4 linked regions of the Homo sapiens genome follow. The protein of the gene in region 1 purifies or fractionates together with the protein of each later gene. This does not show direct contact. Each region holds a gene or a part of one and is shown in the gene's direction. Other genes may lie near its edges. The genes, in order: CDC42SE1, EIF5B, BTBD1 and MIPEP.

The links.
Region 2: the proteins of CDC42SE1 (region 1) and EIF5B purify together in Homo sapiens (affinity purification with mass spectrometry; 2 studies listed by BioGRID and IntAct, with this or other methods). This does not show direct contact.
Region 3: the proteins of CDC42SE1 (region 1) and BTBD1 purify together in Homo sapiens (affinity purification with mass spectrometry; 2 studies listed by BioGRID and IntAct, with this or other methods). This does not show direct contact.
Region 4: the proteins of CDC42SE1 (region 1) and MIPEP purify together in Homo sapiens (affinity purification with mass spectrometry; 2 studies listed by BioGRID and IntAct, with this or other methods). This does not show direct contact.

Annotation. Positions count from the first base shown.
Region 1 is NC_000001.11:151,055,979-151,064,415, reverse strand, and holds the start of CDC42SE1 (CDC42 small effector protein 1), read left to right. Parts: upstream 1-4,793; 5' UTR 4,794-4,937; intron 4,938-7,629; exon of another isoform or gene 7,630-7,765; intron 7,766-8,422; 5' UTR 8,423-8,437. UniProt on the Homo sapiens protein: Probably involved in the organization of the actin cytoskeleton by acting downstream of CDC42, inducing actin filament assembly. Alters CDC42-induced cell shape changes.
Region 2 is NC_000002.12:99,388,685-99,396,619, forward strand, and holds part of EIF5B (eukaryotic translation initiation factor 5B), read left to right. Parts: intron 1-1,033; coding exon 1,034-1,165; intron 1,166-1,534; coding exon 1,535-1,717; intron 1,718-1,859; coding exon 1,860-2,021; intron 2,022-4,282; coding exon 4,283-4,414; intron 4,415-5,582; coding exon 5,583-5,714; intron 5,715-5,824; coding exon 5,825-5,901; intron 5,902-6,034; coding exon 6,035-6,199; intron 6,200-7,935. UniProt on the Homo sapiens protein: Plays a role in translation initiation.
Region 3 is NC_000015.10:83,015,518-83,022,782, reverse strand, and holds the end of BTBD1 (BTB/POZ domain-containing protein 1), read left to right. Parts: intron 1-2,020; coding exon 2,021-2,108; intron 2,109-3,929; coding exon 3,930-4,076; intron 4,077-4,557; coding exon 4,558-4,716; 3' UTR 4,717-6,360; downstream 6,361-7,265.
Region 4 is NC_000013.11:23,879,092-23,887,026, reverse strand, and holds part of MIPEP (mitochondrial intermediate peptidase), read left to right. Parts: intron 1-520; coding exon 521-694; intron 695-5,239; coding exon 5,240-5,328; intron 5,329-7,672; coding exon 7,673-7,759; intron 7,760-7,935. UniProt on the Homo sapiens protein: Cleaves proteins, imported into the mitochondrion, to their mature size.

The DNA of each region.
Region 1 (8,437 bases):
TTCCCTTATATTAGCCCACAGGTAAGCCTTAACAATCCATTTCTCTCTAGCCTACCTCTCCTTCAGAACAAAACCTAGGTGCTAAAAGAACTTTCCTAGCCAGGTGCAGTGGCTTACGCCTATAATCCCAGCACTTTGGGAGGCCGAGGCAGGCAGATCAGGAGGTGAGGAGTTCAAGACCAGCCCAACCAACATGGTGAAATCCTGTCTCTATTAAAAATACAAAATTAGCCAGGCGAGGTGGCGCATGCCTGTAATCCCAGTTATTTGGGAGGCTGAGGCAGGAAAATTGCTTGAACCTGGGAGGTGGAGGTTGCAGTGAGCCGAGATCTCGCCATTGCACTCCAGCCTGGGCAACAAGAGCGAAACTCCATCTCAAAAAAAGTAATAATAAATAAATAAATAAATAACTTTCCTATGCTGTAACAGGGATCTCTTTTCTCTGATCCCAGTGCTCGAGTATACTGATGATAATGAGAGCAAATGGATTGGAAATCCATTTGGATTTAAAGTAAAGTTCAGATTGGAAGAAGGTATTTTAACAGAATCAGATACTCTTCCATGCGTTAATGGATCTATCACTTTCTCTACTCATTCTACCCAAGCCCTGCCTGATATTTTAGGACTATTAGAGCTGCCTACAGCCTCCACCCTGCTACTTACTAGCCAAGGGTCAAGAAGCATTAGTTGTGGTCGGGCGTGGTGGCTTACGCCTGTAATCCCAGCACTTTGGGAGGCCGAGGCGGGTGGATCACGAGGTCAGGAGATCGAGACCATCCTGGCTAACACGGTGAAACCCCGTCTCTACTAAAAGTACAAATATTAAGCCGGGCGCGGTGGTGGGCGCCTGTAGTCCCAGCTACTTGGGAGGCTGAGGCAGGAGAATGGCGCGAACCTGGGAGGCGGAGCTTGCGGTGAGCTGAGATAGCGCCACTGCACTCCAGCCTGGGCGAAAGAGCAAGACTCCGTCTCAATAATAATAATAATAAATAAATAAAAATTAAAAAAAGAAGCATTAGTTGAAATGTTCCCAAAGGAGCAGAAAGAACATTCTATCACCTCCAAAAACAGAACCCCAAGTTTCAAAAGGCCTTTCTCCAACACACCCTATTGGGTCTCACCAGGCCAGAGACTCCTAAATAATGGCCTTAAATAGGTTCCAAAATGCTCCAGTATAATGTGAAATGACTGTACTAAGGCAGAAAAAGAAAGTGTTAATCTAGAACACAGTGATGTGTGAGAGTGTGGGGGCTTCAGGAATGGTGAGTGGGTAGGCTAGGATGTTTTTAATGTTGAAAGTGAATTCTGAGTTGTTCTTTTTCTTAGTTTAAGTTCCAAAATAAACCCTGGGAACTGAGCATTACTCAGCAGAGAAGCTGCTTAGAAGGAGGGTGATGCCGGGATTGCAGCAGGGTCGGGGAGCATGTTGGAAAGGTGAGGTCATCATCCTATGATACTCAACTCTGATAATCTCCATAGTACTTTGCAGAGACGTGTGCAGAAAGAGAGCTACAAAAAATGGTTGTATCCATTAACCAACCACCCACTGCTTAAATCTGGGACTATAGAGATTCTAAGAAGCATACCTAGGAGTCAATACTGTTATGGACTTGTGGCTACAGGGATTCTTACTGTTACCAGTTATTTTCACAGCTAGCTGGGTTCTTTTCTCTATCCTACCTGACAAGTCTTCTCCAGAATGAGCTTAGTATAATGCAGGCCACATTATAGGCTCTTTAAAAAATAGAATCATGGGGCCAGGCGCGGTGGCACACGCCTGTAATCTCAGCACTTTGGGAGGCCGAGGCAGGTGGATCACAAGGTCAGGAATTCGAGACCAGCCTGGCCAAGATAGTGAAACCCCGTCTTTACTAAAAATACAAAAATTAGCCAGGTGTGGTGGCAGGCGCCTATAATCCCAGCTACTCGGGAGGCTGAGGCAGGAGAATCGCTTGAACTGGGGAGGTGGAGGTTGCAGTGAGCCAAGATTGCACCACTGCACTCCAGCCTGGGCAACAGAGCGAGACTCCATCTTAAAAAAAAAAAAAAAATAGAATCATGGGGGGAAAAAATCATAGAATTTTAAAACTAGAAGACATCTTAGAAATTAATGACTTGGGAAGACTTCCAGCCAGTTTGTATAGAATCCAGATCTCATAATTCCCAATCTGATCCCTTTTTGTGTTGTACATGGATAGTTGCCAACAGCTTTATATAACCCTATACCAGTATTCCCAAAACTTAAAAGAATTTTTAGTTGCTGAAGAATAGATTTTCCGTGGTTTAGGTGATTGTTCCTGTAATTGTGATCTGAATGGGGAAAAGCAAAGGGCAGTAGAGCAAGCTAGAATCTGAGAAAAAAAAAAAAGCTCTTCGACAAACTGACTCCTTTTCTTACAACCAGAGTATGTATAAAAAACTGCTCAAACAGTCCCTGAGTGTTTGGTAGAGCTATCTTGCAATTTAAAAAGCTAAAGCAAATTTTATGAAATATTAACTCAAAAGGCCTAAAATCTCTATGTCATTGACCCAGAGACATGTACACAGGGTACCAAATACATTCAAGAAAGACATGCATGCAAACATACGTGGCATTAAAATCAAGTCAAGAACATAAAGTAATACTACACAGAAAATTGAAGTTAAAATGCTATTCACTAATGTAAGTAGTAATGACATTTTTGATTTAATATAGTATGGATTTAATTATCAAATACTCCAAATTTCGCAAAAGATCCTTTTTTGGCTAGCTTCCCCTTCCCCTCCACAAATGCTCTCCAGCCCTACTTCATCTATCTTTACATCTTTCATTATCTTAAATGGTATCATTTACTTAAAGGGTTTTGACAGTGCCTTGTACCACAATATATGTTCAATAAATGCTTCCCACTATCCTTCACTTTAAATTATCCGGGTATTTTAGGCAAAGGCAATATCTAATTATCACTCTGTTCTTAGAGATACATGATTAGCAAATGTATAGATTAGAAAGATACACTCTCGGAGCCACACAGACACGCCCAAATATCCTTTGTCCAGACCCTTTGTGGGCATCCAAGGCCTACTCAACAGGGCCTTGCTGTGTCATGCTGCCACCATGGGGAAGGGGGAAGGACAAGGTGGTGGTGGTGGTAGAGGGGAGCAGAACCTCTCTGACATCTCATAATGTGTGCCTCAGTCAGAGCTTGGATTTTCCTACTAGCATTCCTCCACCAATTCCACTGAGCTGCAAATCATTCTTTTCCAGAATCTGTCCCCATACCTAGCTCCTGTGGGCTATACTGATTTCACTATGGAATCAGGCAGTTCTCCAACACAGAGGCCCCCACCTTTCCTACCCTAGGCTGCCTCTTTCTTTGGAGCAAAGATTCGAGGTGGAATGAAAGAGATTATCCAAAGAAAGGTCAGGATTACACCCAACATTATCCCATATAACCCCCTCCCAAACTCCCTCCTACAGAGAAACATAGAACACTACAGAAAAAAATTGCAAGTATAGGGAAGTAGAGGACAGAGAGATACAGTAGGACTAAAAATTAAACAGCTGGTAAAACAAATTATGGTTTGAAAAGGAAGATAAGTAGACTGAAGATATTAAATACACAGGACAATAAATTACAGAAAAGGATACTTGAAATGAGGTAGGTGCTGAGAAATAACTACAAGTAAATTGTTAGAGATTAATGGTCTGTATAAGGTAACAAGGCATGGATGCTGTGAAGAAATAACTACCCATTGTTCATAGCGCCCCCTTCTCTCCTCTTCAGCTGTCCCCCACCTCATGTGGGGTCTTTCAATCTAACCATAAGCAGCCGCTCTTCTATCTTTGCAGCCCCCTGCCCCCTCCCTCAGTTTGGTTTACCTGTTATCAATCAATTACTGGCGTGTTCCAAAGATGGAGGGAGTGCCTCGGGAGCTCCGGGGTCTGCGCCGGGCTGGAGAAATACAAAGCTGTTGGGGCTTTGACGGCTTTGTCTTCTCACTCCTTTTCCCTCTTCAGTGACTGAGTCTGTCAGTTCACTCTCCCCCTGCAATGCAGCCCCTCCTAAGAAGGGCGGAAGGATTCCCCGCCCCCTCCTGCCTGACTCGGCTAATTCAAATGATAGGTTCCAGAACACTTGAGGGAAGGAGAGACGATGAAAGCATCTCCCTAGGCTCATTGGTCTGCGCTATTATTCCCGATCTCTTCCAGCACCCCCGTGCTGACTGGGGGCCCAATGAATGAGCAGTTAATTGCCCTCTAATTTTAGGTCCTCTAATTTATGGATTTGAAATCTTAACTCTAGACTACAATGGAAAGGAGGAGTATTCCTTTCTTCCACAATTTAAGGACTTTAGGTTACAAAGTATTTTTAAGAATCAGAGTATTTTTCCACCCCTTCTCCCAATCCCTGCTCCTCCAGACTCGCCTCTCTACCCTCACAATGGGTAAATAAACCTAGTCCTATTCCATTTTGGGTAGAGCACAATAAATTTGGGGTGGGGGGCGTGCTTCTGCGAATCTCTGAACTTGGTTAGGTCTGGGGGTTTGGGGGGCTCCGCTTCGTTTTGCCCCGAAATGCCTGGCGAGTAAAGGGAACGTGAGATTCCGGGGGCCCCAGCTTGGGTGCCAGGGCCTCATCTAGGTGTCCGCATTCTCCAGTTCTCCCCGCAGGGGCGGCGGCCTTGAGGGGCTGCAGAGGCACCCTCCCACGTCCCGCGCAGTGCAGTGCCTCCGCAGTCCAGAGGGGAGCAGTGCGCCGGGCTCCGAGCCGGACGGGTTTCGTAATCGCGTCGCCGCCGCTTCCGCCCTCAGCCGGCCCCACCTCTGCCGGCTCGTACTCGGCTCCCCCACCTCGCCGCAGAGCTAGCCCGGGAAGCCCACACTGGCGGCCACGGAGCAGAGTCCCTCACCCCCACCAGCTGTAGCTGAACGTCTGGATGGTGGAGAAGAGCAGGTGAGGCCGTGCAGTTGGTCCCCTGGCCCGCCTGCCGCGCCGGCCGGGCCAGGCGGAGACACACCGGATGCGGGGTGTGGGGGAGGCGGGTGTCCTGGGCTGCAGAGATGCTGGGGTGGTGGGAAAGGGGTGCGCGCCCGGGGTGGCCGTAGTCATCCACGCTCCTGGGGTGCGCAGGCTGAGGCCGCTGAAGAGTAGAAGGAAAAGAAGGAACTGGAATGTTGGGGGAGGTGGGAGGGAGAGGGTCCGAAAGATTCCCAGAGAGGTCCCAGTCCGGTTAAGGGTTGAGAACAGCAGAGAACTTCTAGGTAGAGTTGTGTAGTGGGGGGAGACAGATACGGAATCTGTGTGATTGAATATATTTGGGGAGGGGAGGCTTAGGGCCTAGCCCTCTTTCCTCTTAAGCCCCCAGAAGACCTTTCCTGGGGAAGGGAAGGTTGGTGTTGGGCCTGTCACTTGGCTGAAATATGGAGTCCACACCGCTTCTCCAGAGTCCCTCAGCAGCCCTCCATGTCTCGGGGTCTCCACACAGGGACCAGCTGCTGCCCCGGGCTTCTAGCCAGAATTGCCCATGCCATTCTCTCGATTCTTTCTTTCTCTCCAGCTGCTTCATGTGAGGGCTTGTCAGGCCGCGGGTTGGAGGCCTTAGGGCCAGAGGCGGTGGGACCGGGAGAACCGGTTTGGGGCCCGAACAGGACCAGAGAACTAGCCTGTACATCCTTCCTCCCTGGCACCTCTTTCCCATCCCTTCTGCTCACCTCCCAACAGCTCTGAGACCCTCAAGTCCTAGTATGATCTTGGTGGGGGCGGGGGGTGGCTTTCCCGGTTCCATATTTCACTCTTGCCATTTGGAACTCAGAGAGGTCGAGTTCTGAGCACCACTTGGCTCTCAGGACGTGGCCTTATGAGGTCTAATCCTCATCCCTCCTGTTGTTTTCTCAGCCCCTTCCCTATTCACTGTGGGGTTGGATTCGGGTGGCTCTTCCGCCTGGGCTGACCAGCTCAGGACTTCATTTTTCCTCAACCCACTCTCTTCTGGCTGCTTTAAAGAAGAGTGGCCGCCAGTGGCTCTTACTTCCTTTTCTGGCTTTGTTCCCATCCCCCACTGCCCTGCGCTACCATCACATTCACCCTGACCTGTCTTCTTCACACTCTGACCCCACCCTCAAGTTTCAGAGACCCTAATGTCCTAGGGAATGGAATTTCCTGGTCACTTCTCGTCATCATTGGTCATTTCATGCCAAGTCCCACACACACGCTTTCCCTCCACCCAGCTCTGGTCAGGTCCCTGGAAAAGAAACAGAAATGGCCTTGTTCTCTCCACTGCCCCTTTCCCTCTCTCCTTCTCCTCCCCCTCTCTTCTCTTCCCTCCCAGCACTATCCACCTCTGTCCCTCAGCTTTGAGCAGAGTGGGGGATGTTGAGGGAGAGTCCAGTCACAGTACAGCCTGCCTGCTGGTGTTGGGGGTTTCCTCTAATTCTTCATTTTTCCCCAACCCTTACCACCTGCCACCACCACCATCAGGACAAACCCTATGACTGACTCACTGACGTCCCACTGACCACAGCTCCCCTCTCTGGACAGCGTGTTTTAGCTTCCGCTCCTTCTGGTTACTCCTCCCTTCCAGTGGTGAGAAGAGAAGAGAAAGCCCAGCCTCCTGGGTTCTCCCCTCCCCTAGAAGCTACATTTGAGTGTTTGTGTGATCTCATCTCAAGGCTGTTAAAAAAAAAAAAAACCTCTGTGTGTGTGTGTGTGTGTGTGTGTGTGTGTGTGTGTGTGTGTTTTGTATTTGAGACAGGGTCTTGTCCTGTCACCCAGGCTGGAGTGCAGGGGTGCAAACATGGCTCACTGTAGCCGCAACTCTTGGGCTCAAGTGATCCTCCTGCCTCAGCCTCCCCAGTAGCTGGGATGACAGGCACATGCTACCACACCCTGCTATCTCGTTTTTTTGTGTGTGTTTTTTTTGAGGCGGAGTTTCGCTCTTGTTGCCCAGGCTGGAGTGCAGTGGCGATCTCGGCTCACTGCAATCTCCGGTTCAAGCGATTCTCCTGCCTCAGCCTCCCAAGTAGCTGGGATTACAGGCATCCGCCACCACGCCCAGCTAATCTTTTGTATTTTTAGCAGAGATGGGGTTTCACCATGTTGGCCAGGCTGGTCTGGAACTCCTGACCTCAGGTGATCCGCCCACCTTGGCCTCCCAAAGTGCTGGGATTACAGGCGTGAGCCACCACGCCCGGCCTATCTCTTGTTTTTAAATCAGTCTAGGGTGCCAAAGCATCAGGGTTCCCGGCCTGCAAGAAAGGGAGATTCCTGTTCATGTTAAAGTGTCATATTTATGAAACTGCCCTTTTTGGAATCTTTGAGGTTGTCTGTACTATAGGACTGGGGAAATGCAAGTGAGTCTAAGAAGAAACCCAGATGTGTCCTACCCTGGCTGGCAGTAGTGAGAAGGGAGGAAGTTCTTCCTTGGACACTAGTACTATTGGAAAGTTCCTTATGTCTGGTTCACTGATGAAGCTTGAGGATAGAATTGGTGAGGAGGGAGGGGAGAACAGGTCACAGCTGGAGGGGAGCCTGGGCCCTATAGGGTGTGAGGCAGAGCAGAGTGGCAGATAGGACATGTGGACGGTGGGGAAAATATTCCTCATGGGACAGAAGATACCTGGCACATGTACCCACAACCTGTACACAGATGATCTGTACTGGACACACGTGGAGATATGGCCATGCCACGCATGTGCAAACAGAGGTGTACACACAGGAGTGCAGTGATACAGGACACAGATAAACAGAATGTACACAGCCTTCAGGAAGGATCTCAAGGTCAGGTAATAAAGGAACTGCTGCTGACTGGCTTCTGGGAGGGATTGGATTTCACTGGAGGGAAATCAGGAGGAATAGGGCAGCAAACAGAGAGGGAAGAAATTCCTTATTGTAGAAAGTCTTTCCTGAGGGCCAACCTGCCAGTTAGTCTCCTAGGACCTCAGTGGTCCAGGGCTCTCCTGTTCTTAAAGAAACTCTAGGCGTTCAGGGCAAGGTAAGAAAAAAGGCAGGGACAGGGTGGAGACCTTGTTTGTGAGAACAAAAAACCACTATTTCCTCTTCAGAGTCACTTAAATGCCCCTCCCCTTCTGCCCTAAACTCAGAGAGAAGGGAGCTGGAGCTTGTATCACCCCAAACTTTGCTAATTTCTGCCACTATCCTTTGGTCCTCGCCCATCCTCTTAACTCTAAGTGCTTCTAGCCCCCTTCCTCTCCCTTGGTACCACCAGCCACTGCTCCTTAACCCCTTGGTGTCCTTTTGGTTCTGTTCCTTTTTTTTAGAGTCAAACTGAGGTTCATAGTGTTTGGGAATGAGTGTTGGTGTACAGGTCTAGGGCCTCTCAGGGAGGACTGGGAAGATATAGGCTCATCAGGAGGTTTCTCAAGGATTGGGGGAGGGGGAGATTTCTCACTGATCTTTCTTTTTACTTTCTTCTAATCCAGGGTTCCGAGTCTGAG
Region 2 (7,935 bases), on another chromosome or scaffold:
GTTATCCTTTTGATATATTGCTAGATTTGATTTGTAATGTTTCATTGTTGTTTTGTGTCTATGTTCATGAGTGATATGAGTATGTAGTTTTCTTGTAATGTCTTTTATCTGGTTTTCATATCAGAGTAATGTTGGCCTCCTAAGACGAGTTGAGAAGTGTTTCCTCCTCTGTTTTCTGAAAGAATGTGCAGGAATTGGATTATTTCAAAGAATTAGCTTTTGGTTTTATTGATATTCTTTTCTAATATAAGCATTTAAAAGTGTTAATTTCTAATTACTAGTTAGACATGTTTTTATTATTTAGCTTTACAAGCTTCAGGCTTTTCCTTTAAAGGTGTTGAGCATGTTTATAAATATTCTAAGGACCTCATATGCTAATTTTAACATCTTCGTCATTTCCTACTGATTTGTCTCCTTAGTAGCATTCAGATTCGTCTGATTCTTTATTTTGTCACCCTAGACTCTGTCCCCAGACAGATTATGCTTTTGATTGTTTGTTTGGCTAGCAAGTATTTTTCATTTCTTCTATGCTCATTTATCTCTCATGTTGAAAAGTGAGGGAAAATAGATTCTGTCATTAACAAAACAGATTTAATCCTAATTTGAGCAATAAAATAATTAAAATAGGCTGTTCCCTTAGAAAATATATATTTTTTAATTTTTTGGTATATAATTTTATAGTGATGGTACTTGCTGGGATTGATTGATTTGTTACAAAAACTGTTTCGGAATTCCAACAATATACATTAATAGTCTTAGGATAATTCTAGGATGTTATCTTTTGCAAACAAATGGCAGCCACTTAGGAACTCATGGAGGCTGACAGGGGCAGCATGGCACCACAGCAGTTTCTAATTTAAGAGCAGGTGCCGATAAGCAGTCTGAAAGGAGCTTTTGGTACAATAAAGTGTATGAGTAAGTCACACTGTTCTGTATATATGAGACACACATGAGGAATTTTCTGGAGCTATTAATACAGTTCTTGAATGTTCTGAATTTTTTAGAGATCTTTCTCATGAAAAAACTTTTTCAGATTGATAGGTTATATGATTGGAAAAAGAGTCCTGACTCTGATGTGGCTGCTACTTTAAAGAAGCAGAAAAAGAATACAAAAGATGAATTTGAGGAGCGAGCAAAGGCTATTATTGTAGAATTTGCACAGCAGGTAAGAAGGCCTTCCTTCTTTCTGAAGAGCCTATCTCAGAATATGTATTATATTATCTTTATAATGAAGTCAGCATTTTCATTAATACTGGTTCTTTTCCTCTGTTGACAGCAATTACTTTTTTTAAATTCTTCTTCCCTTTTCTCCTTTTTCTTTGCAGTCTGAATACTTTAATTTAGAAAACTGAGTTGACTTAGAACTACTTTGCTATAATACAGTTAATGCTTATAGGATATACATGATCATTTTTAGTGTTTATGAGGAGTTTCAAAATGATGAGCCATTTGCTCATCCGGCTTCTAGTGAGGCACACCTATTCCAGATACGTTTTCTTTACAGCCTGGCATTTTGGATGATTTTTGCTCCTAGGGTTTGAATGCTGCTTTGTTTTATGAGAATAAAGATCCCCGCACTTTTGTGTCTTTGGTACCTACCTCTGCACATACTGGTGATGGCATGGGAAGTCTGATCTACCTTCTTGTAGAGTTAACTCAGACCATGTTGAGCAAGAGACTTGCACACTGTGAAGAGCTGAGAGCACAGGTGATGGAGGTAATGATCAACTTTTCAGTTTATTGTTTTTTTTTTTTTTAAAAATAGCAAGTTCCTTGAGTGGAGGATATTTACTACTTTTAGATTTAATGAACATGGTGCATTGTATGTATGTCTTTCTCTTTGCATTAATGCCTTTTAGGTTAAAGCTCTCCCGGGGATGGGCACCACTATAGATGTCATCTTGATCAATGGGCGTTTGAAGGAAGGAGATACAATCATTGTTCCTGGAGTAGAAGGGCCCATTGTAACTCAGATTCGAGGCCTCCTGTTACCTCCTCCTATGAAGGAATTACGAGTGAAGGTATGCTGAGGTGGGAAGCATTGACACGTGGGGACTTGTACAGTGTTTAGAAGTTCTGCTGAGATGGTTTCCTCACTTTGAAAGCTGTTTGACTTAATACAGAACACATACATCCCTCGCTCTCCCTTTTATTTTAGTTGTCATCATACAGGAAGGCCTGTCTGTCAGAGTAGAGATGTGTGAAAGTACCTGCTTACCAGACTGGGCCTTTGCCAGATTCTAAACTACACTGTTATGGTTCTACACTGCTAAATACGGTTGACTCTTGAACAACATGAGGGCTAGGGGCACTGACTCCCTGGCCAGTTGAAAATCCACATATATTTTTTGACTCCCCAAAAACTTAACTCCTAATAGCCTACCATTGACCAGAAGCCTTACCAATCACATACACAGTCGACTAACATGTTTTGTATGTTTTATATATTACATACTGCATTCTTACAGTAAAACAAGCTAGAGAAAAGAAAACGTGATTAAGAAAATCATAAGGAAAATAGATTTACTATTTGTTAAGTGGAAGTGGATCATCATAATGGTCCTCATTCTCATCTTCATGTTGAGTAAGCTGAGAGGGAAGAAGGAGAGGGGTAGGCCTTGCTGTGTTTGGTGGCAGAGGCAGAAGAAAATCTGAGTATAAGTGGACATATGCAGTTCAAGCCCATTTTGTTCAAGGGTCAGCTGTAGTTTTTTAACATTTTTAATTGTGAAATAAAACATTGCTCCTGAAAAGTACACACAACATAGAAGAAAAGTTTAACACATTTTTGGGAAGCAACCAGATGGAGAATCAGAACGCTGCTGGCACCCAGAAGCTTCCTGTGTGCTTCTTCCTGATCAACTCCCCTGCCTTCCCCTCCTACCCCCTGACCTTTCATAGAGTTAACCATGGTTGCATTTTATGACAGTAACAAATATCCTTGCTTTGCTTTGTTTTTGTGTCTAAGAGTACTTCCCTTAGAAGTGTCTGTAGACTTTATGTAGAAATGGAGTTATTCTCAGTGTGTACTTTTATAGCTGGCTCTTTTTTTTTTTTTTTTTTTGGTGATAGGCTCTCACTGTCACCCAGGCTGGAGTGCAGTGGTGCAGTCACAGTTCACTGCAGCCTCAACCTCCCCGGGGTTCAGGTGATCCTCCCACCTCAGCCTCCTGAATAGTTGGGACTATAGGTACGCACCACCACACCTGGCTAATTTGTTTACAGATGGGACTTTGTCATGTTGCCCAGGCTGGTCTTGACCTCCTGGGCTCAAGCAATCCACCCACCTTGATCTCCCCAAAGTGCTGGGATTATAGGCATGAGCCACCATGCCTGGCCTATATCTGGCTTCCTTTAGTGAAAAAAAAAAAGTATATAATTTTAAGATTTCTATTCCATTGTGTGACTATATCACAACATATCTATCTGTTCTGTTGATGGGAAATGTAGGTGATCTCCAGTTTTTTATGTTTATTTTATTTTATTTTATTTTGAGATGGAGTCTCAGTCTGTCATCCAGGCTGGGATTACAGGTGCACGCCACCACACCCGGCTAATTTTTGTATTTTTAGTAGAGGTGGGGTTTTGCCGTGTTGGCCAGGCTAGTCTCGAACTCCTGACCTCAGCCTCCCTAAGTGAGCCACCGCACCCGGCCCAGTTTTTGATTTTTGTTGTTACTAATAATGCTGCTGCTGTGAACATCTCTTGATGTGTTTGTGCCAGTTTCCCAGGGTATGTATACCTAGGAGTGAAGGCCACACTTGTCTACAGTGGGTGTAACAAATTATATTCTCAACTGCAGTATTTTAGTTTCATTGTTTTACAGCTTCATCAGTTCTTGGATGTTAGGTTTTAAATTTTTTTTGCCATTCTGCTAAGTGTGTAGCTCATTGCCGTTTCAGTGTGCATTTGCCTAATTGTTAACCTGGTTGGTCATTTAAAAATGTTTATTGGCCATTTATTTCCTCCTTCGTGAGATGTACATTTTTCTTCTGCATTATCTTTCTTACAGATTTATATGCGCTTATATATTCAGGATACCGGTTTGTTAGTTGGTGTGTTTTGCAATATCTTCTACTCTTGTGACTTTTTTTTTCCTGTGGTATTTTGAGAAATGGAAATATTTAATTTTAATGTTAAATTTATCAGTCTTGTGATTATTGCTTTTTGTGCCTCGTTTAAGAAACCTCTCTCTAATATCATGATGAGATTCTCTTATATCATCTTCTACTGCTAACCACTTTTAAAGTACATTTGGTAACAAATGTTTTTATCTCTGTAGAACCAGTATGAAAAGCATAAAGAAGTAGAAGCAGCTCAGGGGGTAAAGATTCTTGGAAAAGACCTGGAGAAAACATTGGCTGGTTTACCCCTCCTTGTGGCTTATAAAGAAGATGAAATCCCTGTTCTTAAAGTAAGTTCATTTAAAAATTTTTTTCCTTAAAAGCTATTTGAGTTCTGGCATGTGTCAGCATTGCACATGCTAGGGATGGTGACCAAAACTGGCTTTGTCTTTGTGAAGCCTGCCATTTCTTGGCCTCTTAGCAAACTTGATGCTTTTGAATTACTTCAGTTTGTACAATCATAGAAATTGGTATAATTTTTATATGTACTAGAATTATAAAAATAATGCATTTTATTCAAATAAAAAAATGAGTCAAAAGCTAGAAGTCGGCTGGGCATGGTGAATGCACACCTGTAGTCCCAGCTACTTGGGAGGCTGAGGCAGGAGAATCACTTGAACCTGGGAGGCAGAGGCTGCAGTGAGCCAAGATCGTGCCACTGCACTCCAACCTGGGTGACAGCAGGACCCTGTCTAAAAAAAAAAAAGCTAGAAATTGTATATTCTTTTTGGCCCATGTCCATTGTAGTTTCATAAAAGTGGACTTTGAGCCATAGTTTGTTCATTTGCCAAAGAGAAAATACAACTGTTCCCAGCACATGGCTCTTGTGTCCTGGGGCCGTGTTTATTATTTAGGCAGCATCAAGTCATGCTGTTGGGAATAAGCTATCTTAGGGCCAGTGAGAGAATAGGGCAGGCCTGTCTCTTCACCCAGTCCTGAGTATGGAGTGGACTTACGTCCCTTCAGTGGCATTGATAAACTTGTTTTACTTATTTCTGGTTAAAAATCTCTTCTTCCATTTCCCGACAAGCAGTGATGGAGGAAGGAGCTGCTGAGATCATGAGATTATGGTATTTCCTAGTTAACACAGACAAGCTGAACTTTTGGGCTATCATAACACATTACGTTTATGTGGTACTTTTTTAACTTTAAAAAAATTTTTCTTCTCTACTGTTTAATTCTGCCCACCCATCTACTGTATTTGCCAAGTGGAGCGGAGATTAAACATATTTCAAAGTTAGTAAACCTAAGACAAAGGTGAAGCGAAATACAGTTAGGGTATGGCCCCGAAATCTCCTCCTTCATTCCAGCACAGGTTCTGTGATGCCTTGCTCTATCTAAGCCTTAGTTTCATATTTGCAGATGAGTACTTAACCAAAGAGAGAAACACAATTTAATTCTAGACTGCTGAGGATAGAGGTGTGTTGACAACCTTATCAAATCTGATTTCTTTTCAAGGATGAATTGATCCATGAGTTAAAGCAGACACTAAATGCTATCAAATTAGAAGAAAAAGGAGTCTATGTCCAGGCATCTACACTGGGTTCTTTGGAAGCTCTACTGGAATTTCTGAAAACATCAGAAGTGCCCGTAAGTAACTACAACTCGCTCCACAAGTGAATGGTGGTTGGTCGTGGTTTTTGGTGCCATCGCCATTACCTGATACATACAGATAAACATGGAAACTCCCATTTTTTCAGTATGCAGGAATTAACATTGGCCCAGTGCATAAAAAAGATGTTATGAAGGCTTCAGTGATGTTGGAACATGACCCTCAGTAAGTAATTTCTCTTGCTATGAAGGCTTTCATGTTACGTAGCTATCTTAAAACTGTCCTATCTTAAAAAACTGTCCTCTGTGACATACTCTGTTTTTCACTGAATGGTCTTTGATGTGTTTTAACCTTTTAGGTATGCAGTAATTTTGGCCTTCGATGTGAGAATTGAACGAGATGCACAAGAAATGGCTGATAGTTTAGGAGTTAGAATTTTTAGTGCAGAAATTATTTATCATTTATTTGATGCCTTTACAAAATATAGACAAGACTACAAGAAACAGAAACAAGAAGAATTTAAGTAAGTTACTGTTTTTATTTACTTTGAGTCTTTGTTAATGAACATGATTGAGAATTACTGAATTCCAGAAAGGGCTGTAAACAGCAAAATCATGGCATTTACTCATCTACCAGAGGCTGCATCCTGAAATGGTGTGTTACAAACCAGAAACCCAACATACTGGGGACATTCCAGCAGTATGCAAACAAGTCTTGTCTGTGACTTCAGTTTAATAATCTTGGCAGACTTGGGTCTTGTTAATGGGTTCGTAGTTATTAAATGTAGGGACTTTATGTTGCTCATCTGGGATTATATAGATTGGAAGTAACAAAACTTGAGTGAGGAAAACCGGGAAATAAGAGATTCTGTGGGAGAGAAGTCCATTCCTCTACCAAACTTTCACTCAAGCACTCACAGTACCTACATTGCTGCAGTGGTAGAGGAGGCATCAGCAGAGAACCAGGCCAGCCTCCCTCCTCCTTTCCCTTTGAGACAGGGTCTCGTTCTGTCACCCATGCTGCAGTACAGTGGCATGATCATGGGTCACCCCAACCTCTGCCTACTGGGCTCAAGTGATCCTCCCACCTTGGCCTCCCGAGTAGTTGAGACTACAGGCTCACACCACTATGCCTGGCTAATTTTTTGTATTTTTGGTAGAGATAGGGTTTCGCCATGTTGGCCAGGCTGGTCTTGAACTCCTGAGCTCAAGTGATCCACCTGCCTCTGCCTCCCAAAGTGCTGGGATTATAGGTGTAAGCCACTGTGCCTGGTCTGGGACATGCTCTTATTGCAGGACAATTGACACATGTTGAGAAGTGCTGAAAAACCAAATAAAGCAGGGAAGGGCCTAGATAAGGAGAGGAGGGACTGTGATTAATGATGTGGTTTGGGAAGGCATCTCACCTCTTCAGACAGAGTAAGCCACACAGGCACATGGGGAGTGTCCAGAGAGAACAGCAGTGCGAGGCAGAGTGACCAGAAGGGACAGTGATAAATGAGGTCAGAGAGGGTGGCAGGACCTGTATCGTCAAGGATCTTACAGGCCATGGGAGGGATTGAGCTTCTCTGAGTTTTGCAAGAAGCCATTGCCAAGGCTGTGTGTTCACAATCAGACTGGTTAATTGGGTTGTTATGTGGACCTTGGGTTGTTAGGAAGTCAGTGGCAAGAGCCTGTCAGGAGGCTCCCACAGTCCAAGCAAGAGGTCTAGGTGATTCAGACCACAGTGATGATAGGAGTGATGGCGTAGTTTGGGATACATTTTTAAGTGGAGCTTACTAGTAAATATTAGGATTTAGACTGGTATATGCTCACTTTAGATCATGAAACCTGAAGTGAGAAGAATTCTACTTAACAAGACTGCTGGAAACTTTTAAAGCATTTTAAGCGTGTGCTCAATAAGCAGGGTAGTTATGTAGTGGCCTTTTGGATCAATGGTTTGGGAACGTGGTGGAGAAAAGGAGGGTGATAATACGGTCTGATGCCTATGTGATCCCCCAGTAGCCTACATATGTGCCTAACGAAGACCTGCCTGTCACCAGGTACTGCCTAGGTTCTAAGCCCCAGACTGTGGCTGACATCTTCAGCAGCCAAGCTCAGTGTTTTAGACTAGGAACAGAATGCTCCTGTGATGCAGCTTCTTTTGGAGGTAGGGCTTTAAAAGAGAAGAAAGCAAAGACTTGGGAAGCAACAGAATGGGGAGGAGGAGGTTAAGAACAAGGAAGAAGCGCTCTGGGCATGGGGTGGCCCTGGGCTGCAG
Region 3 (7,265 bases), on another chromosome or scaffold:
ACCATGTTGGCCAGAATGGTCTCGATCCCCTGACCTCATGATCCACCTGCCTCAGCCTCCCAAAGTGCTGGGATTACAGGCGTGAGCCACTGTGCCTGGTCTATTTTTTTTTTTTCTTTTTGAGATGGAGTCCCGCTCTGTTGCCCAGGCTGGCACCATCTCAGCTCACTGCAACCTCCGCCTCCCGGGTTCTAAGCAATTCTCCTGCCTCAGCCTCCCGAATAGCTGGGATTACAGGGGTGTGCCACCATGCCTGGCTAATTTTGTATTTTTAGTAGAGGTGAGGCTTCACCATGTTGGCCAGGCTGGTCTCGAACTCCTGACCTCAGGTGATCCACCCACCTCAGCCTCCCAAAGTGCTGGGTTACAGTCATGAGGCACTGTGCCTGCCCTACTTTTTTATAATAAAAAATTATAAATAACATATTTTAGAGCCAGGAGTGGTAGCTCATGGGTATAATCCCAGCAACTCAGGACAATGAGTTGGGAGTATCATCTGAGACCAGTTCTAGACCAGCCTGGGCAACTTAGTTAGACTCCATCTGTAAAAAAAAAAAAAAAAAAAATTAAACTAGCAAGGAATGGTGGAGTGTGTCTGCAGCCCAGCTACTTGGGAGGCTGAGGTGGAAGGATCACTTGAGCCCAGGAGTTCAAGCCTGTGGTGAGCCATGATTGTACCACTGTACCCCAGCCTCGGCAATAGAGCAAGACTCCATCTCTTTAAAAAAAATTACATGTTTGTAAGCGTTTAAGGTGATCTTACTGTACCAGATGTTCAAAATAGTACTGTTATCTAGCTTATAGGGCTGTTACGATGACTAAAGGAAATAATTCTGTAAAGAACTGAAGTTCAGTGCCTGGCACACTAGGAAGTACTCATGAAGTGGTATTGATGAGTTAGTATTACTAATAATTGAAGGTGTTGCTGACAATGTTGAGAGTTACTCAATGTAATTTTGCAATGTAAGACATTATAATTATGTCAGATTTTACAGGCTTTTAGTTCCATATGTATTATTATTATTATTATTATTATTATTTGAGAAGGAGTCTCGCTCTGTCACCCAGGATGGAGTGCCGGGTCACCTGCAGCTTCCTTCTCCCAGGTTCAAACGATTCTCCTGCCTCAGTTTCTCTAGTAGCTGGGATTACAGGTGCCTGCTATCATGCCCAGCTAACTGTTATATTTTTAGTAAAGACAGGGATTTGCCATGTTGGCCAGGCTGGTCTGAAACTCCTGACCTCAGGTAATCCACCTGGCTCAGCCTCCCAAAGTGCTGGGATTGCAGTGTGAGCCACCACACCCAGCCTCAGTTCCATATGTATTTAATGTCAGTTTTTATTCATTTACAAAATGGAGTAAGATGGGTCAATATTTCTTAACTATTATGACCAAACTGGACTTGTTAATTATTCTAGTTAGGAAACTGCATTCGAATCCTGTCCCATCCCTCTGCTACCAGTATTCTGTTAGAGTAGCCTACTTCCTTCACAGCTCTTGTTACAATTTGTAATTATTTATTTATTCCTTTCTTGCATTATCAGTGTCCTCCATTAGACTGTATGCACAATGCAGGTAGAAACTGTCTTGTTGACCATTACTTCCGCAGTGCCAAGCCTAGTACCTAAATATGATAAGCCCTTAGTAAGTATTTGTTGAATTGATAATTGTCGTAGTTTGAGATGCTGGGCTTCAGTCCTAATGGCTGAGATGTCTGCGTTCATGAAAAAGATGTACAAATATTTGGACTCGTATAGCACTAAAATTATCATTACAACAAAAGTGGGTATTTAGGTTAAATTCTTTTACAAAACCAATTCTTAGGTTCCTCTTAAGTTCAAATCTGCTCTAGAAAGCTTTTTGGTAAGCAAACAGATGACATTTCCAAGGATATCTAATTTGTTTTCCTTTTTATAAGCAAAACTGGATGTTCCAGGTTACACTTAAAAAAAATTATAACCCTTCAGAATATGAACACATGGGATTAATTATATTTTATTTTTGGCTTCTTTCTCTCAGATTCACAGTTAATAGAAGGATCTCTATAGTTGGATTTGGCTTGTATGGATCTATTCATGGCCCTACAGATTATCAAGTGAATATACAGGTACAGTTTCCTCCCCCACCATATATCATTTTGAAATAACACAAACAGGTAACTTTAAGATATTGTTTTGACAGAATCCAAATTTCAATATAATTGTCAAAGCAATCAGAAGGCCCCTTAGTAGCATTGTAAGCATAAAGAGTTCTGTTTTAGAGTTGATCTAAAAAGTCTGGTTGCAGAAAATTGGGGTCCTTCACAAAAGCAGTAGCATATAAGGAGCTCTTCTTTGTCCAGGAATCCCTTCTATTAGTACTTCCTGCTGTGCAGTCTTAAAACATCCTCCTGCCTTTTTCATGGCCCTTTCAACTCTAGGACTGAAACTAAATTTCTTGTAACTGGTGTGAGCATCCTGTGACTTCCAAGGGGCTGAGCAGACCCTGCTTTATTCTTGGTTACTTTTTTTTGAGACAGGGTCTCACTTGGTCGCCCAGGCTGAAGAGCAGTGGTGCGATCACAGCTCACTTCAGCCTTAATCACCCAGGCTCAAGCAATCCTCCCACCTCAGCCTCCCAAGTAGCTAGGACCACAGGTATGTGCCACCATGCCCAACTAATTTTTCTTTCTTTTTTTTTTTGTCTCGCTGTGTTGCCCAGGGTGGTCTTGAACTCCAGGGCTCAAGTGATCTTCCTGCCTTGGCCTCCCAAGGCATTGGGATTACAGGCATTAGGCCCCTGCTTCTTTTTTTTTTTTTTTTTTTTTTTTTTTGAGATGGAGTCTTGCTCTGTTGCCCAGGCTGGAGTGCAGTGGCGCGATCTTGGCTCATTGCAAGCTCCGCCTCCCGGGTTCACACAATTCTCCTGCCTCGGCCTCCTAGCACTTTGGGAGGCCAAGGAAGGTGGATCACGAGGTCAGGAGTTTGAGACCAGCCTGGCCAACATGGTGAAACCCTGTCTCTACTAAAAATACAAAAAAATTAGCTGGGCATGGTGGTGCATGCCTGTAATCCCAGCTACTCGGGAGGCTGAGATAGGAGAATTGCTTGAACTGGGACCTGGGAGGCAGATGTTGCAGTGAGCCAAGGTCATGCCACTGCCTTCCAGCCAGGGCTACAGAGTGAGACTCCGTCTCAAAAAAAAAAAAAAAAAGACACCAGGCTTCTTGTGTACAAACTGTGGGAGGGCATCAGGATTATAGGTACATTAAAATTATGAAGTATAAATACTGTGAGTAAAATAATAGAAACAGTCTGGGCGCAGTGGCTCAGATCTATAATCCCAGTACTTTGGGAGGCCGATGTGGAAGGATTGCTTGAGCCCAGGAGTTCCAGACCAGCCTGGGCAACAGAACACGATCCCATCTCTACAAAAAAAATGAAAAATTAGGGCTGGGCGCAGTGGCTCACACCAGCACTTTGGGAGGCTGAGGTGGGCAGATCGCTTGAGACCAAGAGTTGGAGATCAGCCTGGCCAACATGATGAAACCCTGTCTCTACTAAAAATACAAAAAAATTAGCCAGGTGTGGTCGCGCACATCTGTAATCCCAGCTACTCAGGAGGCTGAGGCACGAAAATTGCTTCAGCTTGGGAAGTGGAGGTTTCAGTGAGCCGAGACCCCAACACTGCACCCCAGGCTAGGCAACAGAGTGAGAGAGTCTGTCTCAAAAACACACACACACACACACCCACCAACAGAGTGAGAGAGTCTGTCTCAAACACACACACACACACACCACCCCCCACCCCCCCACCCCCAAGGCTAGGCAACAGAGTGAGAGTCTGTCTCAAAACACACACGCACACATTGCTAAGGGCTTTATATTATTTTCTATAGTTTGCTTTATTTGGTTTAACTTAAATGTAACTTGTCTCTTAAAAATTACAGATCATTGAATATGAGAAAAAGCAAACCCTGGGACAGAATGATACCGGCTTTAGTTGTGATGGGACAGCTAACACATTCAGGGTCATGTTCAAGGAACCCATAGAGATCCTGCCCAATGTGTGCTACACAGCATGTGCAACACTCAAAGTAAGAGTCATGCACTATGTTCCAGATGGTTTCCTCTTGAATGTTGCAGAATGTGTGTTTTAGAAGCTGAGAGTCACTGACAGCTGAGCCATTTATAAAGAGGGGGGAAAAGAAGCTGGGAGCTAAAATATTCCACTGCCTTCCGAAAAGAAGTACTTCTCCCCACAGCTCTGTTCTGAAAGAAATAGCTCTTCTTAAGAAGTAGCCCTTTGTTTCAGTAAGCAGTTGAATGTTTGGCAGAAAATAAAAGTTATTTTTGTAAAATCTTTTCACTATTCTCTAATAGCTGGGCTGTACATTCAGTATTTTTATTCATTAATTAGTTTTTTGGTAAAAACTTCATTTTTCTCTAAATGACAGCATAAAATTTTATATAGGAATGATAGTGAAATATAATGGAACATTAATCTAATTAAAACACCACATTAAACTGAGTGCTTATTAAATGAAAATTACTAAGGAACCTTTTGTTCTCATTTAGGGTCCAGATTCCCACTATGGCACAAAAGGATTGAAGAAAGTAGTGCATGAGACACCTGCTGCAAGCAAGACTGTTTTTTTCTTTTTTAGTTCCCCTGGCAATAATAATGGCACTTCAATAGAAGATGGACAAATTCCAGAAATCATATTTTATACATAATTTAGCATTATAATACATCTTGGCTAAATAATACCATACAATCTAGTGTCAAAAACATAAATGGCCACAAAAAAGTAGTTTGAGTGTTATGAATATTTAAAATTGTAAGATAAGAAACAGTTTCTTAGAGCAGATAGAAAAATGCTTATTTAAATCTTTGCATGATTTAAAAACAGATTTTCCATTTTCTTACAACTTTAAGAGAAAAGAACTGGGTTTAATGGTTTAAAAAAAAGCACAGCTTTTTCACCTTCATCTTGTATAATTTCATAGATTGGCTGACTTAGGGTCTTTCAATAGTTTGGGAATTGAAAGATTCTTGTTATATATAGCTAGTTTGGGTTTGTTTTTGTTTTAACTATTTTGAAGGTTAGGTGAGATGGGCAAATAGGCTTAACTATTTTGAAGGTTGGATGAAAAGAGATGGGTCAGTATTCCTACAGAATTCTTATTAACTCAAATAACTAAATTTCAGAAAATTAAGAAGCTGACTTTATATTTGGTGGTTTGAAGTATCTTGTTGTTAGCATTTGTAATAATGCTAAAAAAGGCCTAATAAAATGCCCAAGAAAATATTCAGTGCATTTATAGAGAAGGATATTTTGTAGTAGTATAGTAATGTGTTATGTAGTACAGTTTTAAAGCTATAAATGGAATTTTGTGTAAATTCACAAAAATGTGATATAAACAGGATCTAAGACTGGATTCCCTGTCACTAAACTGCACCACTATACCTGTCTCTCTGTGTGGGGGACACTGCTGATGATTCCCAAGATTGAGATGATGACGGTGATGACGACTGGGTGAACAGCCATCACTTCAACATTGTGATAATCCTTCACAGCAAGAAACCGAATAAAATACTAACATTTCTAACAACTGCTCTGACATTGTAAAGAGATCCAACAGAATCACTCCTGCTGAAAAATACGCTTTCTGCCACCTACACATTTCTATTTAGGAAGTAAAATTTGCTTCATGGTCATGACCCCATTAGTCAGTGTTACAGCTGTGTTGGGGATAGGAAGTATATCTGGCAGATTGATATTTATACACTTTTTTATAAAGCAGATTTTAAAATATAGTAACATCCATTTTTTTCCCTTGAAAGTGATTCTCTTATAAAAAATGAAAGTGGAGTTTAAGGTATATCAAATCGTTGTGGAAGGTGATTAAAAATCAAAATTCTTTTAAATATCAACTTAATTTTTTCTAAGTAAGATACAAAAAATTTTCATCTAAAGTAATATTTCACTTTATATTGTAAAGAAGGTAGGTATATTGGTGGCTGAGGTCTCTTGAAATTGCTAAAGGGAAATTTTTCTATGGTAATGCTCTTACGGATATAAACCTCAGTTAAATGGAATTATCTATGGGATGTGTGGTTCTGGTTAACTAAAAATTAACCAGTAAACACTCTGTAGTAACCATTACAGAAAATACTTCTGCCTTAAAAAATATGATATGCCAGAGATGAGTTAGTGTTTCTTGACGTTGGAGACCTTTTAAATGCCTCATCTGTTGTACTGAACAATTGAAACTGCATGCAGCCATAAAAGGGACAAGAAACAGAACTGTTTACTAACTTTGGGACATCCCCTGGAGTTTTTAAAAATAAATAAATATATATATATATAAAAAAAACTCTTTTATGTCATTTGCCTTTTTCTTCTAAAAGTGAATATAAACAGAATTTTGATTTGTTTTTTGTTTGTTTTTTGAGATGAAGCCTCGCTCTGTTGCCAAGGCTGGAGGGCAGTGGTGCAATCTCGGCTCACTGCATCCTCCACCTCCTGGATTCAAGCTATTATGCGGCCTCAGCCTCCAGAGTAGCTGGGATTACAGGTGCCCACCACCACGCCCAGCTAATTTTTGTATTTTTAGTAGAGATGGGGTTTCACTATGTTGGCCAGGCTGGTCTCGAACTCCTGACCTCAGCTGCCTTGGCCTCCCAGAGTGCTGGGATTGATTACAGGCGTGAGCCACCACGCCTGGCTGTCAACACCATTTTGGAACAAAGGTTCTAGTTAATTGAGGTTTAACTTAATGGGAGTAATGCAATACAAAATACAAATACCTCATTGCTGATTTAAACCAGTTCATAGGAACTGCAGTGATAACTGCCGCAGCCTTTTGTTTCTTGATCATTTCTTGTGGCCTCAGGTTTTTCTCCTGTTCTAATCAGGAGGTGGAGGTTGAATGTGGGAGAATCCAATAAATAATCTTATTTACTGTTAAGAGTGTGACTATCATCTTACAGCTGTTTATTAATAACTACCCAAGTGACTACTAGGCTCTGCAATGAGTACTTTACTACATTCTTACTTGTTTCTCACAGCATCAGTATGAGGGAAGTACCCATTTCACAGGCAAAGAAATTAAAAGGTCAGCTAGGCTGGGCACGGTGGCTCACACCTGTAATCCCAGCACTTTGAGAGGCTGAGACAGAAGGATCACTTGAGGCCAGGAGTTCAAGACCAGCCTGGGCAACATAGACCCTGTCTCTGAAAAATAAGAAAATTAGCTGGGTTGTGGTGGCACGTGCCTAT
Region 4 (7,935 bases), on another chromosome or scaffold:
AGTACTTTACATATACTTATTACCTGTATCCATGCTGTAAGGTATGTATCGTCATTCCCATTGTACATGATGAAAAAAATATTTCTCCTAGGAGGAGAAATAACATGACCAGGGTTATAAGCTAATAATAATTATGGCTAACATCTATAAATGCTCTGTGCCAAACACTGCTTTATGTATATATATATATATATTTACATATATGATCTCATTTAATCTTTGCGGCCACTCTTAGGTTCTGTAGAAGTGACAGCTGGATTTTGAACCCATACCATTGTTGTTGTTGTTTTTTCCGGAAAATAATTAAAAATTGAAGAAAAATTATGTTCTGAAAACATTTTTAGTGTAATTTATGTGGAGTGATATGGGGAGTATGATAGTGGTATCTGTGATCACAGGTATAACATGATACACCAATGAAAGTCAAGATCTCCTTTGTGATAAAAGTAATTTTAGTAAATATAAAAAAAGCACAATTTTGAATTTTGGTTATAAATCAGACGTATTCTTTGGTTCTAAGGGTCTTTTTGGAGTTCCTGAGCTGAGTGCCCCAGAAGGATTTCATATTGCACAAGAAAAAGCCTTGAGAAAGACAGAATTGCTTGTGGACCGTGCATGTTCCACCCCACCTGGGCCCCAGACCGTGCTGATCTTCGATGAGCTCTCGGATTCCTTATGCAGAGTGGCCGACTTGGTAAGGTGCTTTACCTCAGACTTGAAGCTACCTCTCTTTCAACTTGTTAAAATTTAAGTGAAATTTATCCTTTGTTGTTTACTATTAATATTAGATTATAAAGTTAAAAATGTCTGAAACTGAGATCCATTGGGTATAATTTTTTATGATGAAATATGTCATTAGGAATGGGAAAATATTATAGGAAAAGGTGATATTTAGAACTTGTACTTTAATACGTATGTTTAATAAAATATACATGTAATATATAATGAATGAATACTAATATAGCAAATATTTGCTATATTTGGGTAATATATATTTACATATATATTCATTTGACAGAGATTCTTCATTTATGAAAGTGTCTCCCAAAATTCTAAGAACACTTTATGTGTACATTTACAACAAAATTCCCCTTTTTCTTTTTTTTTTTTTTTTAATAGAGACAGGGTCTCCCTGTGTTGCCCGGGCTGATCTTGAACTCCTAGCCCCAAGTGAACCTCCTGCCTCGGCCTCCCAAAGTGCTGGGATTATAAGTGTGAGCCACTTCTTTTTCATAAGAGGTGTGAAAACCAGTTTTAATAAACCTTTTCAGGAATGCTTTTTTTTTTTTAATTAAAAACCAAGTTTTGACATCAAAATGATTGTAAAGACTTTTTTTTTTTAACATTTTAAATTTGAAATAGAAGTGTATACCTAGATCTCTTCAGCAACTAGGAAATCCATTGCTGAGATAGCAAAATTTTCTTTTTTTTTTATTTTTAATTTTTGTGGGTACATGTATATATTCATGAGGTACATGAGATGTTTTGATAGAGGCATGCAATGCATAGTAATTACATCAGGGAAAATGGGGTATCCATCCCCTCAAGCATTTATCCTTTCTGTTACAAACAATCCAATTATACTCTTCTGGTTATTTTAAAATCTACAATTAAATTATTATTGACTGTAGTCACCCTGTTGTGCTATCGAATAGTAGGTCTTACTCAATCTTCCTGTTTTTTTGTAGCCATTAACCATCCCCACCTCCCCCATGCCACCCTGCTACCCTACCTAGCCTCTGGTAACCATCCTTCTACTCTTTATTTCCATGATTCAGTTGTATCTATTTTTAGGTCCCACAAGTGAGTGAGAACATGTGATGTTTGTCTTTCTGTGCCTGACTTATTTCACTAAACATAATGACCATCCATGTTGTTGAAAATGACATAATCTCATTCTTTTTTATGGCTGAATAGCATTCCATTGTGTGTAAGTACCATACTTTCTTTATCCATTCATCTGTTCATGGACAGTTGGGTTGCTTTCTCATCTTGGATGTTGTGAACAGAGCTGCAGCAAACATGGAAGTGCAGATATCTCTTCGATATACTCATTTCCAGGAAGCAGGGTTTCCTATCAGCTTGAAGGAGCTGACTCTTGGTTACTCTTGTCAAGGAAAGCAGCACACACAATTTAAATAGTGATCATTTATGATCCTGTCTACATGGTATAGAACTGCATAGGTTTTTCCCTCACATTCAGTCAATGTTGAGCACGTACTGTGTGCCAGACACTGTCTAGGCATGAGGGATACATGCAGGAATGAAACAGACACAATCTGTTACTTCATGGAGTTTATATTCTGGCATTAACTTGTTTTTGGAAATTTAACTAGACTGTAGGCCCTTTCTACAGCCTAGTTAGCTGAAGAAGCTTTCCCTGGATGAGCTGAGGTAACCTTCTCAGCATATCTCCATTTTCACAAGAGGGAAGAAAGGCACTGGGTGATGAAGGGATGTGCCCGCTGTCAGCTGGCCAGCGTGTGGTGCAGCTGGGCTGCCAGCCCAGGCAGGGTATCTGTCGAGCTCTTCTTCTTTCTCCTGTTCCAACCATTTCAGGGCTGGCTGGCTGCTCAGGTCTCATGAATCCTTACCTGGAAAGGTTGCAAAGTTTGTTAGCCTCTCCATCTTTAAAAAAAATGTATACTTGTTTTTAAAATTATTATTCTGTAAAATTGACTTCTTTTGGAGGATGGTACAGTTCTATGAATTTTAACTCGTATAAATTTGTGCAGCCCTCACCACAATCAGGATACAAAGCTGTTCCATCCACCCCCAAAAATCTCCCTGTAGTCACACCCCCCCCTCCCCACTAACCTCTGGCAACCACTAATCTGTTCTCTCTCCCTATAGTTTTGCCTTTTCTAGAATGTCACATAGGTGGAATCCTGTATACCTTTGACTGACTTCTTTCACCCAGCATAACTCATCCCCATCTTTATTTTTTTTCCTTTTTTGGAAAATTTCCTTCCACCCATACAACTGATTTGAGCATTAACACCTTTCAGATGATTATATGTTCACCACAAGCCTCCCGCTCTTAAGAAAACTGATAAAGTATCTTACTGTAAAGGGTTTTTCCCTGGAGTGAAGTTGCAGGCTCTGAGTAGTTCTGTTGTACTGGGTTTTTGTTCTGTGCCTCCAGTATGTGCATAGGAAATGTGTCTTTGAATGATGGGGAAGCTGTGGAAACGCACTGCCAAAAGGAGGTTTCATACCCTGTTCACCTAATTGTGTCACAGAAATCAGAAAAGGAAAATCTGTGTCAGTGAATTTCACTGTATCGTCAACCCTCCAGATTGGGGGATCTGTGGAGTCAACCAACCTTGGATCAAAAATATTTGGAAAAAAAATTTGCATTCATACTGAACATGTACAGACTTTCTTTTCTTGTCACTGTTCCATAAAACAATACAGTGTATCAGCTATTTACATATTGTTTACATTCATTAGGTATTACAAGTAATCTAGATATGATTTGATGTATGGGGTGTGCTGTGTGTCGGTTATATGCAAGTACTACACCATTTTATATCAGAGACTTGAGCATCTGTGGATTCGGGTATCTGTGGGAGGATCAAACCATTGTCCATTGATACTGAGGGGTGACTTGGCGTGGCTGTCACAAATCCCAGAATTCACTGTGTATTTGTTGTCTTAGTCTTCATCTTAATCAGTATTCTAGGATTTTTTTCTACATTTTTGCTTTTGATCTTCACTAAAAGATTTTAACTTCTCTGCGCTATATCTTATTTTGACATTTTTAGTATTTATCATGTATAATAATATCTCATTTTGAAAACTTAAAAAAAAAAGATGTGATTTGTATATGTAGTTCTCTGGGTATAAAAGAACCTTTCTCTGTTCTGAATTTTTAAGATATTACCTGCCAGTAAGATTATCTGAATTTTTAATATCTTAAAAATATCTGAATTTTTAAGATATTACCTGCCAGTGAGATTAGTACTGTTATAAGGCAATCGTTTTATAAACTGTTTTTCACCAAATAGTCATTTTATTTTGTTTTCTTTTTTAATACAGTTTTTATGTAACAACTGTTTTCCTCATCACTATTACAAATCAGTTTTTAATATGTATGCTAGTGTTTTGAATTTTAATATTGATTATAAATTCACAACCCGTAGATTAGTAATTTGTAAAAAAAAAATGTTGTAAATTTACATAACTCATTTTTCAGGTACTTTGGTACTAATGTTATTTTATCGTTACCAATTGTTACAACAAATATACCAAACTATGGATTTAAATGTTTTGGCATTAAAAACTATTTGATAATAAAATTAAGAAATTTTATCTTGTGGTGATTTTATTTCATGTTATAGTCACATTTTCTTGGCAAATAAAATATGTAGTGTTTTGTAGTTTCTCTGCTTTTTGTTACAGTTGACATGAAAACAAAAATTTAGTTTTACATCATTTTATCTTTTTAAAAAAGAACTGTCACTCATTTTAATGTCTAATGACTTAAGTAGCAGCAGCAGTAGTAGCTGTATACAGTATTACATGGAGACTACGAACTCATATTTTATTGAAAGGACTATGAAGAGACCGTGCCTTTGTTTTCTGCACAAAGACTACCATGTAGTTAAATCAAAGACTAGAATGTAGTTAAATGGGTTTTGAAACTATACTATGTGTCAGTTAAAAAAAAAAGCCTTTAAGAGTTGTTTTCTGGAGATAAGTTAACATGTGAAAACCATACTGCAAAGAATTTTAGCCAGAAAGTTGTAGAATATTTGAAACCAGTGTCTGCTCTTTTGAAATAAAGAATTAGAGGGCGTGGTGGTGGGCACCTGTAGTCACAGCTACGTGGGAGGCTGAGACAGGAGAATGGCGTGAACCCGAGAGGCGGAGCTTGCAGTGACCTGAGATTGCGCCAATGCACTCCAGCCTGGGCGACGGAGCAAGACTCCGTCTCAAAAAAAAAAAAAAAAGAAAGAAAGAATTTGCTTGGTGTTTATATTTGAAAGAGAAAAACTTTTCTGAAATAATAAAAGTCTTTTTTTGGAGTGAAACAAACTTGGTTTCAAGGAATAACAGAATTAAATGTTCAGAAAGAAGCTGCTTTGCTTTACTCGCTTAGGAAAAAGTCAGTAATGGAAATGCATAGGGCAAGCCAATGGCACATCTTAAAACCCAGTTTTCATTTTCACCCTCAGATCCTGGAAGAAAGCTTCTCATCAAATTCCCTTTTGGTTTTGTCTTTCCCCTTTATTAGGCTGATTTTGTGAAAATCGCTCACCCTGAGCCAGCATTCAGAGAAGCTGCGGAAGAAGCTTGTAGAAGTATTGGCACCATGGTAGAGAAGTATGTGCTGTTCCCCTCCCCACCTCCATGCCAAGTCCTGGGTGATCCGGTTTCATGGACTTGTGCCGTAGGCAGTTTTGTCCATAGCGCTTGTCCCTCACCCAGCAGGGTGGGAGGTGTGTGTGACCAGGGGTGGCCGGAGGGAGGGCTCAGGACAGGCCATTGGCTCACCTCGCAGGCAGGCACTGGGCCTTAGGGCTGGTTGTCTGTTCTCTCAGTCATTTCCTTGTCTGTAAATGGGGTCGAAAAGTTAACCCTGCCTCAGGGTCCTTGTGAGTGTTAAATGAGATCAATGTAAAGGTGTCACTTGATAATCTGAGATGACAGACACCCAGGATTCTTGTCATCACCATTATCACTTACCTTAAATAAGGGCTTTTTAGTGTCCTAGTGGCAAGTTGGACTTACTAGATTATCGCTTGATTAAATTGCTGTTGCATCAATGGCTGTGGGCCACGGGGCGAGAAGCCAAAATGCTCTATAAACAGTGTCCTTGTGGTCCCTGTTGAGTTGGAATTAGGGGAGTCTAGGGAGGCTGTAAAAGTCTGTGGGAGGGCTGGAGCATGCTCTGGCTGAGGCTGTGATAGAGTGAATTATTTTAAAGTGATTTTGGGGTAAATGTGAGTATTTTTAAGCCACTTATAAGAGCTCCATAATGCTTGTTAAAATAACTGAATGGTGGACAGCGCTGTATTCCAACACACTTAGCTGCATGGCACCATGCCAGGCAGTGTATAGAGCTAGGGAGAGCCCTGGGCTCGCCAGCGTGGATTTACAACAGGGAAAAGGGGGTAACACGATAAGACAATTTCATATGCCAGAAATTGTTGGAGGAGGAGAGTGATGGCTTCTCTGGTTAGACGAGGCTTCCTTGGAAGACCCAACACTTCAAGATGTGCAGCTGCTGCTTTTCCCCAGGTCGCCAACATTTGTTCACTTTGGCACAATCGTGTGTGACTTTTCCCATAGCCGCTGAAAACCAACTTGCGTAATGGGACAGAACGGGGCCCTGCAGAGTGCAGATACTGGGCATGCTGACAGGGCTGAAAGTGGGGACTCCCTGGGAGAAAGCTTTGCCTCTCGGGGAAAGGCCCCTGGGAAGGAGTCAGCAGTGGGCTGCCTGCTCGAGGCTCTCTGCATGCTGTGTCCTGCCGAATTAGACGTGGGCTGGTCTCATGGACAAGCACTCTTCATTTTGTCGGAGGACAAATACAGACTGAAGTATGGGCTTTATCTCAGGGTCTTCCAACATAAAACATACTACTGGGAGATTTCCTTAAACCTCTGCAGTGGGGGCAGTGCGGGCAGCCTCTGAGCTACTGTTCCTTTGCCATGGAGTGGCTCCGTGGGTGAGCAGGTTGGGAGGAGGTAGGCCTCCACACTCACTCTCTCCCTGACTTCTGGGATCCGTGTGTGGGAGTCTGGCCCTTCTTGGTGAGTGTTTTTTTGATGGGTAATGACTATCTACGTTTCACTAGTATTTGGGAAGGCCCATGAGAATGGTAGCAGAAACCCTTCGATTCATATAAATCTTAAGTGTTTTTTTGTGAACCAACTGAGGAACAGGAGTATCCTTGAGTCTCTGAGTAGCGACTGGTGAGTGGTTCTTACAACCTTATCCCTCCTTGAAGACCTACCCAGCAGGGTGCAGATTGTATCTAGACCCAGCTCACTATTTAGTTTTGAGGGGGCCATGGCATTTGCATTTAGGGAAGAGGACTGGGTTCCTGCTAGTGGTACTATGGGGTGGGTTGGGACCACTGCCCAGCATTGGGCCCTTTGCTCTCTGGATGGCACAACTGCTCAACAGTGGCCATGGTTCATTCACATAGGAAATGTGTGCTGCACACATGATCTCATTTAATCCTCACGGCAGCCTAAAGTCTAAATAACGTGTCCAAGGTCCCACAGCAGTAACAAGGCCAGTCTTGCATCCCAGTTGGGTGGCTCTGAAGCCTGTGTCCTGAGCTCTCCCTTACAGTGTTTTTAAATTTAAAAATTAGCTGGGCGTGGTGGTGTATGCCTGTAGTCCCAACTGCTTGGGAGGCTGAGGTGGAAGGATCACTTGAGCCCAGAAGATTGAGGCTGCAGTGAGCTGTGATTGTGCCACTGCATTCCAGCCTGGGTGCTGGGTGACAGAGTGAGACCCTGTCTCCAAAATAAGGGAAAGAAAGAAAGAAGGGAAGGAAAGAAGGAAGGAAGGATGGTTACACTGTTCCTGGTAGGTTATGCTGTTCAGCTTCTGGGCATGTGTGTGGTACAAGCTGACACCATTCTTTTCATGTAAAGTTAAAAATAAGGTATTAGAAAATCATCTAATTTTTTAAATTTCTATTTTTTCTAGGTTGAACACAAATGTGGATTTATATCAAAGTTTGCAAAAATTACTAGCTGATAAAAAACTTGTGGATTCCCTTGATCCAGAAACAAGGTACTCACTCATTTCTTTGCCTTGATTGTGACTGTGACTCTAGAGGTGAGGTTGGGAGACTCTCCCTCAGGGCCTCTGTACTTGCAGCCTCTGTTGTCTGGAATGTTCCTCCCCAGGTATCTCTATGACTCCTGCACTTTCTCTAGGACTCCACTCAAATGGTGTCTCCTCCAAAA